2 separate regions of the Homo sapiens genome follow, and region 1 is linked to region 2. Evidence: fine-mapped expression QTL. A gene starts in region 2. The other region holds a variant in brackets. All regions are shown on one strand. Distances are between the middles of the regions.

What was found. PIP is the estimated chance that this variant, and not a neighbour inherited with it, causes the effect.
Region 1: its variant is fine-mapped to the expression of CNTRL in whole blood (INTERVAL, PIP 0.96).

The regions. Positions count from the first base shown.
Region 1 is chr9:121,123,961-121,132,295 of GRCh38, reverse strand. CNTRL (centriolin) reads right to left here. Exons shown (of 44, transcript NM_007018.6): 13 at 8,212-8,335; 14 at 6,360-6,580. Among named protein-coding and RNA genes, the nearest start is that of CNTRL, 53 kb to the right of the region's middle. The variant G/A (reference allele first, on the strand shown) is at 4,125.
Region 2 is chr9:121,070,556-121,078,850 of GRCh38, reverse strand. It overlaps CNTRL (centriolin), which reads right to left and starts at 3,896. Exons shown (of 44, transcript NM_007018.6): 1 at 3,784-3,896. It also overlaps a transcript of C5 not described here. RefSeq lists silencers at 3,492-3,631, 3,752-3,811, 4,436-4,632 and enhancers at 3,932-4,321, 6,675-6,724.

The DNA.
Region 1 (8,335 bases), 53 kb before region 2:
GTGAAAAGACCAAATCTACGTTTGAATGGTGTACCTGAAAAGTGACAGGGAGAATGGAACTAAGTTGGAAAACACTCTTCAGGATATTATCCAGGAGAACTTCCCTAACCTAGCAAGGCAGGCCAACATTCAAATTCAGGAAATACAGAGAACACCACAAAGATACTCCTCGAGAAGAGCAACTCCAAGACACATAATTGTCAGATTCCCTAAGGTTGACATGAAGGAAAAAATGTAAGGGCAGCCAGAGAGAAAGGCTGGGTTACCCACAAAGGGAAGCCCATCAGACTAACAGCAGATCTCTCAGAAACTCTACAAGCCAGAAGAGAGTAGAGGCCAATATTCAACATTCTTAAAAGAAAATAATTTTCAACCCAGAATCTCATATTCAACCAAACTAAGCTTCATGAGTGAAGGAGAAATAAAATCCTTTACAGACAAGCAAATGCTGAGAGATTTTGTCACCACCAGGCCTGCCTTACAAGAGCTCCTGAAGGAAGCACTAAACATGGAAAGGAACAACCCGTACCAGCCACTGCAAAAACATGCCAAATTGTAAAGACCATCAATGCCAGGAAGAAACTGCATCAACTAACGGACAAAATAACCAGCTAGCATCATAACAACAGGATCAAATCCACACATAACAATATTAACCTTAAATGTAAATGGGCTAAATGCCCCCAATTAAAAGACACAGACTGGCAAATTGGATAAAGAGTCAAGACCCATCAGTGTGCTATATTCAGGAGACCCATCTCATGTGCAGAGACACACATAGGTTCAAAATAAAGGAATGGAGGAAGATCTACCAAGCAAATGGAAAGCAAAAAAAAGCAGGGCCTGCAATCCTAGTCTCTGATAAAACAGACTTTAAACCAACAAAGATCAAAAGCGACAAAGAAGGGTATTACATAATGGTGAAGGGATCAATTCAACAAGAAGGGCTGACTATCCTAAACATATATGCACCCAATACAGGAGAACCCAGATTCATAAAGCAAGTCCTTAGAGACCTACAAAGAGACTTAGACTCCTACACAATAATAATGGGAGACTTTAACACCCCACTGTCAATATTAGACAGATCAACAAGACAGAAGGTTAACAAGGATATCCAGGAATTGAACTCAGCTCTGCACCAAGCAGACCTAATAGATATCTACAGAATTCTCCACCCCAAATCAACAGAATATACATTCTTCTCAGCACCACATCTCACTTATTCCAAAATTGACCACATAGTTGGAAGTAAAGCACTCCTCAAAAAATGTAAAAGAACAGAAATCACAACAAACTGTCTCTCAGACCACAGTGCAATCAAATTAGAACTCAGGATTAAGAAACTCACTCAAAACCACTCAACCACATGGAAACTAAACGACCTGCTCCTAATGACTACTGGATACACAATGAAATGAAGGCAGAAATAAAGATGTTCTTTGAAACCAATGAGAACAAAGACACAACATACCAGAATCTCTAGGACACATTTAAAGCAGTGTGTAAAGGGAAATGTATAGCACTAAATGCCCACAAGAGAAAGCAGGAAAGATCTAAAATCAATACCCTAACAACACAACTAAAAGAACTAGAGAAGCAAGAGCAAACACATTCAAAAGCTAGCAGAAGGCAAGAAACAACTAAGATCAGAGCCAAACTAAAGGGGATAGAGACACAAAAAACCCTTCAAAAGAATCAGTGAATCCAGGAGCTGGTTTTTTGAAAAGATCAACAAAATAGATAGACCGCTAGCAAGACTAACAAAGAAGAAAAGAGGGTAGAATCAAATAGATGCAATAAAAAATGATAAAGAGGGTATCACCACCAATCCCACAGAGATACAAACTACCATCAGAGAATACTATAAACACCTTTATGCAAATAAACTAGAAAATCTAGAAGAAATGGATAAATTCCTGGACACATACACCCTCCCAAGACTAAACCAGGAAGAAGTTGAATCTCTGAATAGACCAATAACAGGATCTGAAATTGAGGCAATAATTAATAGCCTACCAACCAAAAAAACTCCAGGACCAGATGGATTCACAGCTGAATTCTACCAGAGGTACAAAGAGGAGCTGGTACCATTCCTTCTGAAACTCTTCCAATGAATAGAAAAAGAGGGAATCCTAACTCATTTTATGAGGCCAGCATCATCCTGATACCAAAGCCTGGCAGAGACACAACAAAAAAAGAGAATTTTAGACCAATATCCCTGATGAATATCGATGTGAAAATCCTCAATAAAATACTGGCAAACCGAATCCAGCAGCACATCAAAAAGCTTATCCACCACGATCAAGTCGGCTTCATCCCTGGGATGCAAGGCTGGTTCAACATACACAAATCAATAAACATAATCCATCACATAAACAGAACTAATGACAAAAACCACATGATATCTCAATAGATGCAGAAAAGGCCTTCAACAAACTTCAATTGCCCTTCATGCTAAAAACTGTCAATAAACTAGGTATTGATGGCACGTATCTCAAAATAATAAGAGCTATTTATGACAAACCCACAGCCAATATCATACTGAATGGGCAAAAACTGGAAGCATTCCCTTTGAAAACTGGCACAAGACAGGGATGCCCTCTCTCACCACTCCTATTCAACATAGTGTTGGAAGTTCCGGCCAGGGCAATCAGAAAAGAGAAAGAAATAAAGGGTATTCAATTAGGAAAAGAGGAAGTCAAATTGTCTCAGTTTGCAGATGACATGATTGTATATTTAGAAAACCCCATCGTCTCAGCCAAAATCTCCTTAAGCTGATATGCAACTTCAGCAAAGTCTCAGGATACAAAAATCAATGTGCAAAAATCACATGCATTCCTATACACCAATAATAGACAGAGAGCCAAATCGTGAGTGAACTCCCATTCACAATTGCTACAAAGAGAGTAAAATACCTAGGAATCCAACTTACAAGGGATGTGAAGGACGTCTTCAAGAACTACAAACCACAGCTCAACAAAATAAAAGAGGACACAAACAAATGGAAGAACATTCCATGCTCATGGGTAGGAAGAATCAATACCGTGAAAATGGCCATACTGCCCAAGGTAATTTATAGATTCAATGCCATTCCCATCAAGCTACCAATGACTTTCTTCACAGAGTTCGAAAAAACTACTTTAAAGTTCATATGGAACCAAAAAAGAGCCTGCATTGCCAAGACAATCCTAAGCAAAAAGAACAAAGCTGGAGGCATCACGCTACCTGACTTTAAACTATACTACAAGGCTACAGTAAACAAAACAACATGGTACTGGTACCAAAACAGATATATAGACCAATGGAACAGAACAGAGACTGCAGAAATAAATAACACCACACATCTACAACCATCTGATCTTTGACAAACCTGACAAAAACAAGAAATGGGGAAAGGATCACTAATAAATGGTGCTGGGAAAACTGGCTAGCCATATGTAGAAAGCTGAAACTGGATCTCTTCCTTACACCTTATACAAAAATTAATTCAAGATAGATTAAAGACTTACATGTTAGACCTAAAACCATAAAAATCCTAGAAGAAAACCTAGGCAATACTATTCAGGACATAGGCATGGGCAAGGACTTCATGACTAAAACACCAAAAGCAATGGCAACAAAAGCCAAAATAGACAAATGGGATCTAATTAAACCAAAGAGCTTCTGCACAGCAAAAGAAACTACCATCAGAGTGAACAGGCAACCTACAGAATGGGAGAAAATTTTTGCAATCTGCTCATCTGACAAAGGGCTAATATCCAGAATCTACAAAGAACTTAAACAAATTTACAAGAAAAAAACAACCCCATCAAAAAGGGGGCAAAGGATACGAATAGACATTTCTCAAAAGAAGACATTTATGCAGCCAACAGACACATGAAAAAATGCTCATCATCACTGGCCATCAGAGAAATGCAAATCAAAACCACAATGAGATACCATTTCACACCAGTTAGAATGGTGATCATTAAAAAGTCAGGAAACAACAGATGCTGGAGAGGATGTGGAGAAACAGGAATGCTTTTACACTGTTGGTGGGAGTGTAAACTAGTTCAACCTTTGTGGAAGACAATGTGGCGATTCCTCAAGGATCTAGAACTAGAAATACCATTTGACCCAGC[G/A]ATCCCATTACTGGGTATATACCCAAAGGATTATAAATCATGCTACTATAAAGACACATGCACACATGTGTTTATTGCGGCACTATTCATAATAGCAAAAACTTGGAACCAACCCAAATGTCCATCAACGATAGACTGGATTAAGAAAATGCAGCACATATAAACCATGGAATACTATGCAGCCATAAAAAAGGATGAGTTCATGTCCTTTGCAGGGACATGGATGCAGCTGGAAACCATCATTCTTTGCAAACTATCACAAGGACAGAAAACCAAACACCGCATGTTCTCACTCATAGGTAGGAACTGAATAATGAGAACACTTGGACACAGGGCAGGGAACATCACACACCGGGGCCTGTCGTGGGGTGGGGGGAGGGGGGAGGGATAGCATTAGGAGATATACCTAATGTAAATGACGAGTTAATGGGTGCAGCAAACCAACGTGAAACATGTATACCTATGTAACAAATCTGCATGTACCCTAGAACTTAAAGTATAATAATAATTAAAAAGTATATAAAATCATGTAGAAATTACATATGAGGAGATAAAGCAAATGTGTTAAAATAGTAATTGGTGACTCTCGGTGAAAGGCAAATGTGAGTTATTTGTATTCCTCTTGCAACTTTCCTGCAAGTTTGGAGTTATTTCAAAATATAAGCTTTAAAAAAAAGTTGGACAACACTACAGCGTTGGCAAGGATGTGGCAAGAATGGTAGCCCCCACATTGCTGGTGGGAGTAGAAGCTGATAAACTCACTATGAAAAGTAATTTGACAATATCTACTGAACTTAATGAAGGATGGACATACTCTGACCCACAGTTCTGCTTCTGAGCATAGTCCCCATGTGTTCAAGATGTGTGCAGGAATGTTATGCTCAGCATTGTTTGCAATAGCATAACACTGGAAATCACCTAAATGCACCCCAAAAAGAGAAGGAATAAATAATAAATTTGTGGTATGTCCATAAAGCAGGATGGTACATATATCAGTAAAAATGAACAAAGTAGAACTACATCTATCAGTGTGCATAATTCTCGAAAACATAGGCCAGGCGCTGTGGCTCACACCTGTAATCCGAGCACTTTCAGAGGCCAAGGCAGGCGGATCACCTGAGGTCGGGAGTTCGAGACCAGCCTGACCAACATGGAGAAACCCCATCTCTACTAAAAATACAAAATTAGCCGGGCAGGTGGTGAATGCCTGTACTCCCAGCTACTCGGGAGGCTGAGGCAGGAGAATCGCTTCAACCCAGGAGGCGGAGGATGCAGTGAGCCGAGATTGCGCCACTGCACTCCAGCCTGGGCAACAAGAGCGAAAATTCATCTCAAAAAAAAACCAAAACAAACAAACAAAAACATAAACATGAAGGAAGAAAGAAAGTGGCCAAATATGTACACTATGATACATTTTGTATAAGTCTTAAAATCAAGGAAAATACTATATATTGCTTATGGATGTTTACATATATAATAAAAGAATAGAGGTGCAGGGAAATAATAACCATATTCAGAACTTTGTTACTTCTGGAAAGGAGTAGACAGAGGATTTCAAATGTACCTATAATGTTTTATTTCTTAAGCTGGGTTGTCAGTACATGATGTTAAATATTATTTGTGATTTTTTAAATATGCCTGAGATATTTCATAATATTAAAATATATTAATTCAATTTCTGGAGCCAGCTCTACTGAACAAGAAGTTTGGAAATCTCTAGTTCTCATGTATGATAACATTTTCCAAACAACTAAAATAGAGCAAGGGAAATCTCCAAACGAATGTGCAACAAATCAGGTTCATAAGGATATAATTTAAAACAATATGTCTGTTTTGTTAGCTATAAAATAATGTTAAAATTATCCAGTAACAACAAGACTAAGAAAAACCATTCTGTGCTCAATTTTTCAGCACAAATAAAATATGAGCATTTAATACAATATTTGTAATAGCTACCATTTCATATTCTTTAGAGTTATTTGGCAACAATACCTTTCAGGGATAGAAATGCAGCTTAAATAATCTTCCTTTTCTGAGCAAAGAAAAAATAATAATTCCAAATGTATCACAGCTAAAGAAGAAAAAAAAAAGCCCAACTGTTAAAAGAAAAAAATCACCATATAGCCACTAATACTTTTTCCCACTTAAAAATGTACTGTTACCTCCTCCAACTAACTTAATTTGGACATTATCTACTTATGAAGCTACGGAAAATAGGCAGGAAAAAAATCATACCTTCCTCATATTTTCTGCATCCATGGCAACTATTTCCAGCTGGTCTCTCTCCTGCTCGACTTCTGTCAATCTCTGCAACAATGTCTCTTTCTCATCCCGCAGCTTCCTGCACTCATTCTGGGCCTGAGTTGCCTGGCCTTTAATGGTCCCCAGGTATTCTTGCAACCCACTGATAACACCTTCTAAATCCTTCTTCAGGGCTTCATTTGCTGCTATCTGGCCTAAGCAAGATGCAAAAAGGGTAATAATATATCTTTTTAAAGTACTGCATTGTCTGCTCAGCATTTTGTTATAAGCCAAGAGTGAAATTCTAAGCTTTCAATTCTTTCCTATCATTTTTCTTTTTCAAAACATAATGTTAAATTTTCTTCCTATTATAGATAGCAAAGGAGTATTAAGCAGGTATAAAATAAAAATAGTACATTTAGGGGGCAATGCTTATAAAATGCCTGATTCATGCTGTAAAAAGTTTAATTTCGGCCGGGTGTGGTGGTTCAAGCCTGTAATCCCAGCACTTTGGGAGGCCAAGGCAGGCGGATCATGAGGTCAGGAGATCGAGACCATCCTGGCTAACACAGTGAAACCCCGTCTCTATTAAAAATACAAAAAATTAGCCGGGCATGTGCCTGTAGTCCCTGCTACTCACGAGGCTGAGGCAGGAGGATCACTTGAACCCAGGAGGCAGAGGTTGCAGTGAGCCAAGATCACGCCACTGCACTCCAGCCTGGGTGACAGAGCGAGGCTCCGTCTCAAAAAAAAAAAAAAAGTTTAATTTACAAATAAAATAAAAAATATGTACCAAAACTGTGAGTTCTTGCTGCTAAATACAAAGAACAAGACCACCTAGTATATAAGATGAATCCAAGACTGGCAACATAAATGTGTAACCTAAACACTTAGAACACAAACACACACATCCCATGTACAGTACTGGATACGCACTATGTGCCAGGAACTTTATGAACACTATCTCTCTCTTTTTTTTTTTTTTTCAGACAAAGTTTCACTCTGTCACCTAGGCTGGAGTGCAGTGGCACAATCACGGTTCACTGTAGCCTCAACCTCCCTGAGCTCAGGTGATCCTCCACCCTCAGTCTCCCAAGCAGATGGTGCCACAAGCACACATACCACTACGCCTGGCTAATTTTTTTTTTTTTTTTTTGTAGAGACGGGGTTTCGCCATGTTGCCCATGCTGATCTCGAACTCCTGGGCTCAAATGATATGCCCGCCTCAGCCTCCCAAAGTGCTAGGATTACAGGCGTGAGCCACCACTCCTGGCCTATGAATACTAGCTCATTTAATTCTCCCAACAACTAATGATTGAGATAAAAACAACTTGTCCAAGGCGACACAGCTGACAGTAGCAAAACAGAGAGCAGGATCTTTTTACACTGAGCCCTATGTGTAAAAACCACTATGGCCTATTGTCTTCCTTTTCCACTATTATGGATATGTCGCAGTTTAAATCAGCATTGCAAAACTAGATCCTAAAACTCTTTCTTCTTATAACCAGACACTGAATTCCCTGATGCCAATGGGTGCTTTGCTCCTGAATGGATTTTATGTCATAGACAATCACATGCCAGAGCTTATCATGATCACGTATTGACTTCTGGCCTACTGACTGGAATGACCTGACTCACTAGGCATCAATGCCACAAAACAAAACAAAAACAAAACTCTTAAAATTGCATTAACTACTTTTGGGTATCCTGTAAATATTTCCCTATCAAATACTAGTACTAATAGGTGAACTGTATTTAGCTACTATCTGGATTAATGCTTGTCTTTATAATGTTTCTTTTACCAGCAATAACACTGATTTACCTTAAATCATACTGAAAGTCTTACCTTCAGTAAGCTGTTCTTCAAGGTCCTTAATCTCTTCCGTTTCCTTAGCAATTCTAGAAAGTATCTCATCCAAACGACTTTCAAGTTGTTGGTACTGCTTGTTCATAATGTCAAGCTGTTGTTC
Region 2 (8,295 bases):
TTCCCACCTGCCTTACGCTATGCATCTTTTCACCTATATCCTTTGTAATATCTTTTATAATAAACCAGTAAATGTAAGTAAGTGCTCCCTGAATTCTGTGAGCTGCTCTAGCAAATTAATCAAACCCAAGGAGGGAGTTGTGGGAACTCTGATTTATAGCTGGTCAGTCAGAAGCACAGGTAAAACTGAGGCTTACAGTTGGCATCAGAACTTGGGGGCAGTCTTGTAAGCCAGCCTTCAACCTTAGGGATGTGACGCTGTCTCCAGGTAGACAGTGTCAGAATTGAACTGAACTAGAGGACAGTCCTGTGGTGCCCACCACTGCAGAACTAACTGCTTGCTTAATGTGTGGGGGAAAATCCTACGGAATCATGTTGTGAGCGTATAGTGGGAGAAATTGAGTTTAATCTGTAGTCTCAGTAATACTATTTTTTTCTTTTTTTGAGACAGAGTCCTGCTCTGTTGCCCAGGCTGGAGTGCGGTGGTGTGATCTCGGCTCACTATAACCTCCGCCTCCCAGGTTCAAGTGATTGTCCCGCCCCAACCTACTGAGTAACTGGGATTACAGGTGCACAGCACCACGCCCGGCTAATTTTTTTTATTTTTAGTAGAGATGAGGTTTTGCCATGCTGGCCAGGCTGGTCTCAAACTTCTGACCTCAGGTGATCCACCCACCTCGGCCTCCCAAAGTGCTGGGATTACAGCCACCATGCCCAGCCCTCAGTAATACTATTGATGCTGCTAAGCTGCACTGGCATTCTCCTTCTAAATAAGGATAATACTCTAAAATTTGAGAAAAGCTAAGAGGCATGTGCTTAGGTAAAATCTTATTCCTAATTAAATGGATTAAAAGATGACATTTATTATAGTATGTATAGTACGTAGTTGGCGTTTTTTTCCCCCCTGAGGCAAGGTCTTTCTCTGTCACCCAGGCTGGAGTGTAGTGGCATGCTCATGGCTCACAGCAACCTTGCCTTCCTGGGCTCAAGTGATCCTCCTACCTCAGCCTCCTGAGTAGCTGGGACTACAGGCGCATATAACCACGCTTGGCTAATTTTTTATTTTTTGTAGAGATGGGGGGTCTCACTATAGTTCCCAGGTTGGTCTTGAACTCCTGGGCTCAAGTGATCCTCCTGCCTCAGCCTCCCAAAGTGCTGGGATTACAGGTGTGAGCCACTGTGCCCAGCCTGTAGTTTTTACATCCTAATGATCAAGACCCTTTAGGTCTCACCAGACTATCATGAGGTCCTTTATTACCTCTCCTGATTAGTAAAAGTCAGGCTTACTCATTCATAGACTTAAACCCTTGGTTGCCACAGCTTCTGTAAAGCTTGGACACTGAAACAAGATAGACGTAATCAGTCTCAGAGAATAGCTAACTCAGTGAAGTGGGCTTAGGGGTTTACAGTGTTTGAGAATGGCTGGCATTATTTCTTAGGCTACTGCCTGGAGGTGGTAAATGCTGAATTATAATTTTAATGGAGAGATGAGGATGTAGTTTGATCTAGGATGTTGTTTGCAATCACATGAACAAAGACCAAGCAAGCAATGGAAAAATGAAGACAACTGAGAGGTAGGCTAGGGCGAGTAAAGGAGCAGGATAAAGAGAAAAAAAAAGCAAATAAAGTTCAGAGCTGCAGTTGTATTTTAAAGGCTGTCTGCAGAGCAAGAGAAAGCCATTGGAATGACATGATAATCAGAATCCTACGTCCAGGCAACAAAACACTACCCATCCTGCCACCTATAAACCCAGATAGTTGCTCTGATCTAACAATTCAGTCCATCACAGCTTAGTACAGACTGCAAACTCCACCTCCATCCAGCCTTTCCTAACCTTCCTAACTTCCCATCTTCTCTGATCTCCAAATAACGCAGACCTCCTTCTGTCTCTCTACAGACTCCCTAATATGCAAATACCCATCCCCATTTATTAACCCCCATATCCCTCTCCTTAGCCCTTTAATTGGATTTCAGTACTTTCCAAGTCTACTTCATCCCATACCCTCTGACCTACTGAAATACTTTTACTCCTTAATCTTCTCCTCCTTTCAAATATCCTGATTCCGATTCCTCTGCAAAGTCTCCAGCCATTTTTCTTTCCAAAGCCAATTCCCCCATTCTGTGCTGCCCACCCACCTCTGCCTCCCATTCTTCTTTATCCCATTCTGATTGCCAATTTTCCCACAAATTCTATCCCAGTTCCCTAACACAGTAATAGTCTCCCCCATTTCTCTATGGTTCTTTCCTGTGCCCAGACTCAACATTTCTCTATCCATCCAGACTTCCCAAGCTGCTCATCTCTCTTCACCCCAGAAAATACCCTGACATCCTAATGCGTTCCAATACTCTGACCTCCAATTACTCCCCTCCCTAAACAAAATACTCAAACCTCCATCCATTCCTCTTCATCCCAACCCAACTGCCTGCCTATTTGCCTTTCCATCCTAATACTCTAGCCCCCGTATCCTTCTCCATCCTATTAAAAGCCTGAATCCCCTCTCCCATCTCTCTTCTTCTGCTCAGATACCCTAAAACTCAAGCTTCCCATCTCTTTCCATTAATTATTCAATTTTATTGAGCAACTTTTATGTAGGAAGAACCATGCTAGAATCTAAGCTCAAGATGCAGAAGATTTTATCTCCCTATTACCCATGATCTCTGCACCAAGCAGTCTCCTTCATAGCATTTTATAACCATTATTTGTGAAACTACTTGGTTGTTGCCTGTTTCTCCTTCTAGACTATAAGCTACAAGAGAGCAGAGGTTTTGTCTGTTGTTCTATAAACAATAAATATTTGTTGACTGAAGGACTGTACTAAACACTTAGACAATACCAAATTTAAATCCTCAAAGATTTAGCTGTATAGGATCAGAATTATTAACCTGATTTACAAATGGCAATGTACCTGAACAGTTAAAAGCTTGGATTCTGGAACGAAACAGCCTGAGTTCAAATTCTGATTTTCCACTTACTGTGTGATCTTAGGCAAATTACTTAACCTCTCTGGTCCTCAGTGCTATCACTTTTTAAATGGGGATGATAACCTCATACAAGTTATTTTAAATTCTAAATGAGGTTAATACGTGCAAAGTGCTTAAAACTGGATCTGACAAATAGTGAACACCCAAAAATGATTCGCAATTATTTGGACAAATGAGGAAACATGATCAGGAAGGCTCAGACACATATCCAGGGTCACAGACCTGGTTAAGTTACACAAGGTGGCAGAATTGAGGCTTCAACCCAAGTTTGTCTGGCTTCAAAATTCTCTAGTCCCTTAACGAATATAACGGAAGTGTTTGTTCTTCCCCTTCTTTTAGCATTTCGTCCCCATATCCTGTCATCTTTCTCCACGCACTGTACTCCGTCCGATACCGTGACAACCCGTCAGGACGCCCAAACTGTCCTTTCTCCCGCTCACTCCCCACAGACAGCTGGCACATCCCAGCTCTCCCCTCAGCTCAGGTGGCAGGACCCACAACCTTCTGGGCGCCGCACCCTAACTTCCACACCTCCCCACACTCTGGTTCTTCATCCCCAATCGCCCCCGCCGTCCCCACCTCTTCCCATCCAAACCTCCCTCCTTCATCCACCGCCCCACGCCCGTTCCGGGCCCTCCCCTCTTTCCCGTCCAATCCCAATTCCCAGACACGCGCCCCCGCCCCGAATCCATCCCAAGCCGGCCCACACCACGCCCGGTCCGGGCCTTCCCGCCTTTGCCGCCGGCCCCCACTGCTCGGGCCGGATGCCGGGGAACGGGCTCGGCCAGGTCTGACGCTCACCGCCTAGAAGCCGAGCCGAGCAGTCCCGCAGGCTGAGGTAGAGCGGGAGAAGTTCGGGCTCTTTCCTCAGGGGCCCAGCGGCGCGGCAGCCATTTTGTTGTGTTGTGCCGGTTGCCGAGGGGCCGCGCGCGCGTGGTCGGGGCTAGTCTCAGCCACGCCCCTCTCCCTCTCCGGTACTGTTGGAAGGGACGCGGAGGCGTTTCCCGCCTCTTTTGCAGCCAGCGCGCTAGGATGCCGGGGAGTCTTGGGCGCGAGGCTTCCGGCCGCGCGGGGCCGACGGGATGCGGTGCCTTCGCCTTCGGATTGCGTTGCAGGTGAAGTGTCGGGTGCAGAGTCAGGGGGAGCCGAGGTTTCATGCGGCAGCTGCCCGCAGTGCTGTGGCCTTCGCTGAGACAAAGCTGCCGCCGCCACCCTCTGAAACACGGACACGCTTCTCAGGGCCTGTGTCCGAGGACGGCCTGAGGCACCGGCGCAGCGCCTCCCCGGCCTCCCCCACTTCTGATGCTTGCGCGCTATGAGCGAGTGTTCTTATCAGCACACTTCTCTCTGACAGTCGTATCTAAAGCGAATTCCCTCCAGGGACCGAACTGCCCAGGCTCGGATGAACCTCAAAGCGGACGCAGCCTGGGCTCCAGCTGTCGCGTGAGGTTCAGGGAGCTTGGGAATCCTAGGCAGAGGATGTTCCTCTGATTGCTACAAGGGAGTTAAAGCAAGAAGCACTTGCACAGGCTTCATCTGGGGCTTGCCCATGAGCACGGCGTTCACGACATGCATTCAACAGATATTTTAAAGAATTTAGCAGATACTGGGCTGGATGCTAGGGAAACACTGAAGTTTTTTTTAAAGTGTTATCACCATTGACGCCTTTCACTCCAGTAGCCTCCCGTTTTGAAGGTATACCCTGGACCATGTTACCATCAGAGGCTGCACCCGCTCCAGAAATCCCCAGTGCAATCGCTCCCCATCCTTGACTATAATCCTATCATCTTAGCAGCGTGCCTGCTCAAAAGACCCCTATGCCAGCGTATTTCTAAACTTCCTTGCGTCTTCCAGTCCCTTGTTCTTACCATTTTCTCGCGATCATTCTATCCTGTCTTCATTTCCTTTCTTCACTACAGAGTTTATAGGCCACCTGTATAACACTTTTAGAAACTCCCTCTCTCTCTGTGTCTCAGTTTCCTTATCTATGAAATGAGGTCCTTTTACCTATTAACACTTCCTACAGTTTTCCTGATAATTATAAAAGTGAATCCTGGCCGGGCGCTGTGGCTCATGCCTGTAATCCCAGCACTTTGGGAGACCAAGGTGGGAGGATCACTTGAGGTCAGGAATTCAAGATCAGCCTGGCCAACAAGGTGAAACGCCGTCTCTACTAAAAATACAAAAATTACCCGGGCGTGGTGGCGCACGCTTGTCATCCCAGCTGCTTGAGAGGCTGCAGGAGGATCGCTTGAACCCGGGAGGCGGAGGTTGCAGTGAGCCGAGATCGCGCCACTGCACTCCAGCCTGGACGACAGAGCGAGACTCCATCTCAAAAAAAAAAAAAAAAAAAAAAAGTCCAGTTTTCCTGATAATTATAAAAGTGAATCTCTGTGAAAGAACTTAGAACAGTGAGGGACCCATAGTAAGTTCTCAATATGTCTTAGATATTTCATTATTAGACAAAGGTTACCCAGAAGCAATACTTCTTTCTACGCCCAAAAGAAGAGTTTAGGCAAGGAGTAGGGAGGTGGGGAAGAATTTGCTTGGCAAAGGGAACAACTTGTGCAAACCCCGGAAGCGGGGGAAAAGAGCTTGGCAATGTGCTGAATGTTAAGTAATTCAGTGTGGCTGGAACAAAACATGAGTATGGAAACATGAAGTAGTTCAGTATGGCTTGTGCAAAAATCTGGGGTGGAGAAGCTAAATCTGGAAAAGGGACCATATTATAAGCAGTATTAGGCACTTCATTTTTCCTTAAGGCAGAGATGGCTTCACCTCTATAGGAAATTCAGGGGACGTCCAACAGGGAATAAGCTGCAATAAACATGGGGATGCAGATGTGTCTTTGATTTACTTTGATTTACTGATTTCCTTTTCCTTTTACTTAAATGTGATTCCCATTGACATTTAAGTGAATGGTGCTGTCCTCTCCCCAACTATTTACACGACACAGAACGAAGCCCTTGGAGTTTAAACGCAGAATTTTTGAAAAGCTCCACTTAAGAGGAGATTACATTCATTTTTTTTCTTTTCTTTTTTTTTTTTTTTTTTTTAATTTTTTGAACAGAGTCTGGCTCTGTCACCCAGGCTGGAGTGCAGTGGCAGGATCTCGGCTCAGTGCAACCTCCGCCTCCCGGGTTCAAGCGATTCTCCTGCCTCAGCCTCCCGAGGAGTTGGGATTACAGGCACGCACCACCAAGGCCAGCTAATTTTTGTATTTTAGTAGAAACAGAGTTTCACCATGTTGGTCAGGCTGGTCTCAATCTCCTGACCTCACGTGATCCGCCCGCCTCGGCCTCCCAAAGTGCTGGGATTACAGGCGTGAGCCACCGCGCCCTGCCGAGATTACATTCATTTTTAATCGAAGTTCAGGTGATATTTATTAGATTGGAATGTGTACGTTGCTGAGTTTCAGTTCTATTTGCATATGTTTTGACACCCATCGTTTCGGTTTCTTGTACCCAGAAACTTAGATTTATTGCGTAACCTCATTGCTGTGTCCCTCAAAGTCTGTAATGGTATTCACGTGGGATCCATTATCAAGCCGTGGTGTGCTGATGTAGTTCATTATCAATCATATTAGTATCAATTAATAGCCATCAAATATACATAAAAAGTCCAGAGGGTGGCGCAAAACACTTTTCTCTTGGGTGATCTCTCAGTCCGTATCCAGTTAGCCGCGGATGGGCACTCACCGGTCCCATGTTGCCCCCTTTTCCTCCTCATACAGACCTCTGCTGGTGTCTAGCATCATCTCTAACGAAGCTAGAGACTTCAAAGGAGAGACCTTTCTCCAGTTAATTTGAATATTAACTGTCTCTCTTAGCATGCTAAAAGAACTTCCTTCTCCAAAGCAGAAGTGAGAATACGAAAGTAACGCAGACAACTCGCGTTCCACACTATTTTTCTTTATCTGATATTATGAAGAATGTACTCTGAGTTGCATTTACAATACAAATATTAGCCACGTCAGGGTGACCAAGCTTTTACTCAGTCTTTTTTCCAAATGATAGCAAAGCTATTCTGTTTAAACTTCCCTCAGCTTTTTGCAACCCAGTTTAATCATTTTGCGAATTTGTTTTAGAGAAGAAACAGACTAGTTTGTCAGACAGGGATGGCAACTTTCATTATTGCCATTTCTTTCTGTGACTGGCCAGTGTGATTTTGTTGTTTTGTTTTTTAAGACAAGGTCTCACTCTGTCACCCAGGTTTCAGTGCAGTGACACAATCATAACTCACTGCAGCCTTGACTTCTCAGACTCAAGTGATCCTCCTCCCTCAGCCTCCCAAATAGCTCAGTCTATAGGTGTGCACCACCACACCTAGCTAATTTTTAAACTTTTTGTAAAGATGGGGTCTTGCTGTGTTGCCCAGGCTGGTCTTAAACTCCTGGGCTCAAGCGATCCTCCCACCTCAACCTCCCAAAGTGCTGGGATTACACGCATGAGCCAGCATGCCCAGCCTGATTTTTTTTTAATTTTTATTCATTTATTTTTTTTTGTTTTTGTTGGTGTGTTTTGTTTTTTGTTCTTGTTTTTGTTTTTTTGAGACAGAGTCTCACTCTGTTGCCCAGGCTGGAGTGCAGTAGCACGATCATGGCTCACTGCAACCTCCACCTCCAGGGTTCAAACAATTTTTGTGCCTTAGCCTCCCCAGTAGCTGTGATTACAGGTGTGTGACTCCACGCCCAGCTATTTTTGTGTATGTGTGTGTATTTTTAGTACAGACAGTGCTTCACCATGTTGATCAGGCTGGTCTTCAACTCCTGGCCTCAAGTATCCGCTTGCCTTGGTCCCCCAAAGTGCTAGGTTTGTAGGTGTGAGTCACCATACCCAACCTTAATTTTTATTTTTAAATGACATGTAGTAACTGTACATATTTATGGGATACATAGTGATGTTTTAATACATATAAATGTATAGTGGTTGGAGTAATTAGCATATCCATCATCCCAAACATCATATGTTTATTTTAGGAAGATTTCATACCCTCCTTCTAGCTATTTGAAACTATATAATATATTATTGTTAACTATCCTCATCCTATAGTAAGTATAGAACACTAGAACTTATTGCTCCTATCTAGCTATAATTTTGTATCCTTTAAGATATCTTTCTCTCCTTCCCTTCCCCCTGCTACCCTTCCCAACCTTTAGTATCCTCTGTTCTACTGTTTACTCCTATGAGATCAACATTTTTCAGCTTCGACATATGACTGAGAACATGTGGCATTTAACTTACTGTTCCTGGCTTATTCACGTAATATACTGTCTTCCATTTCCATCCGTGTTGCTGTGAATTACAGTATTTC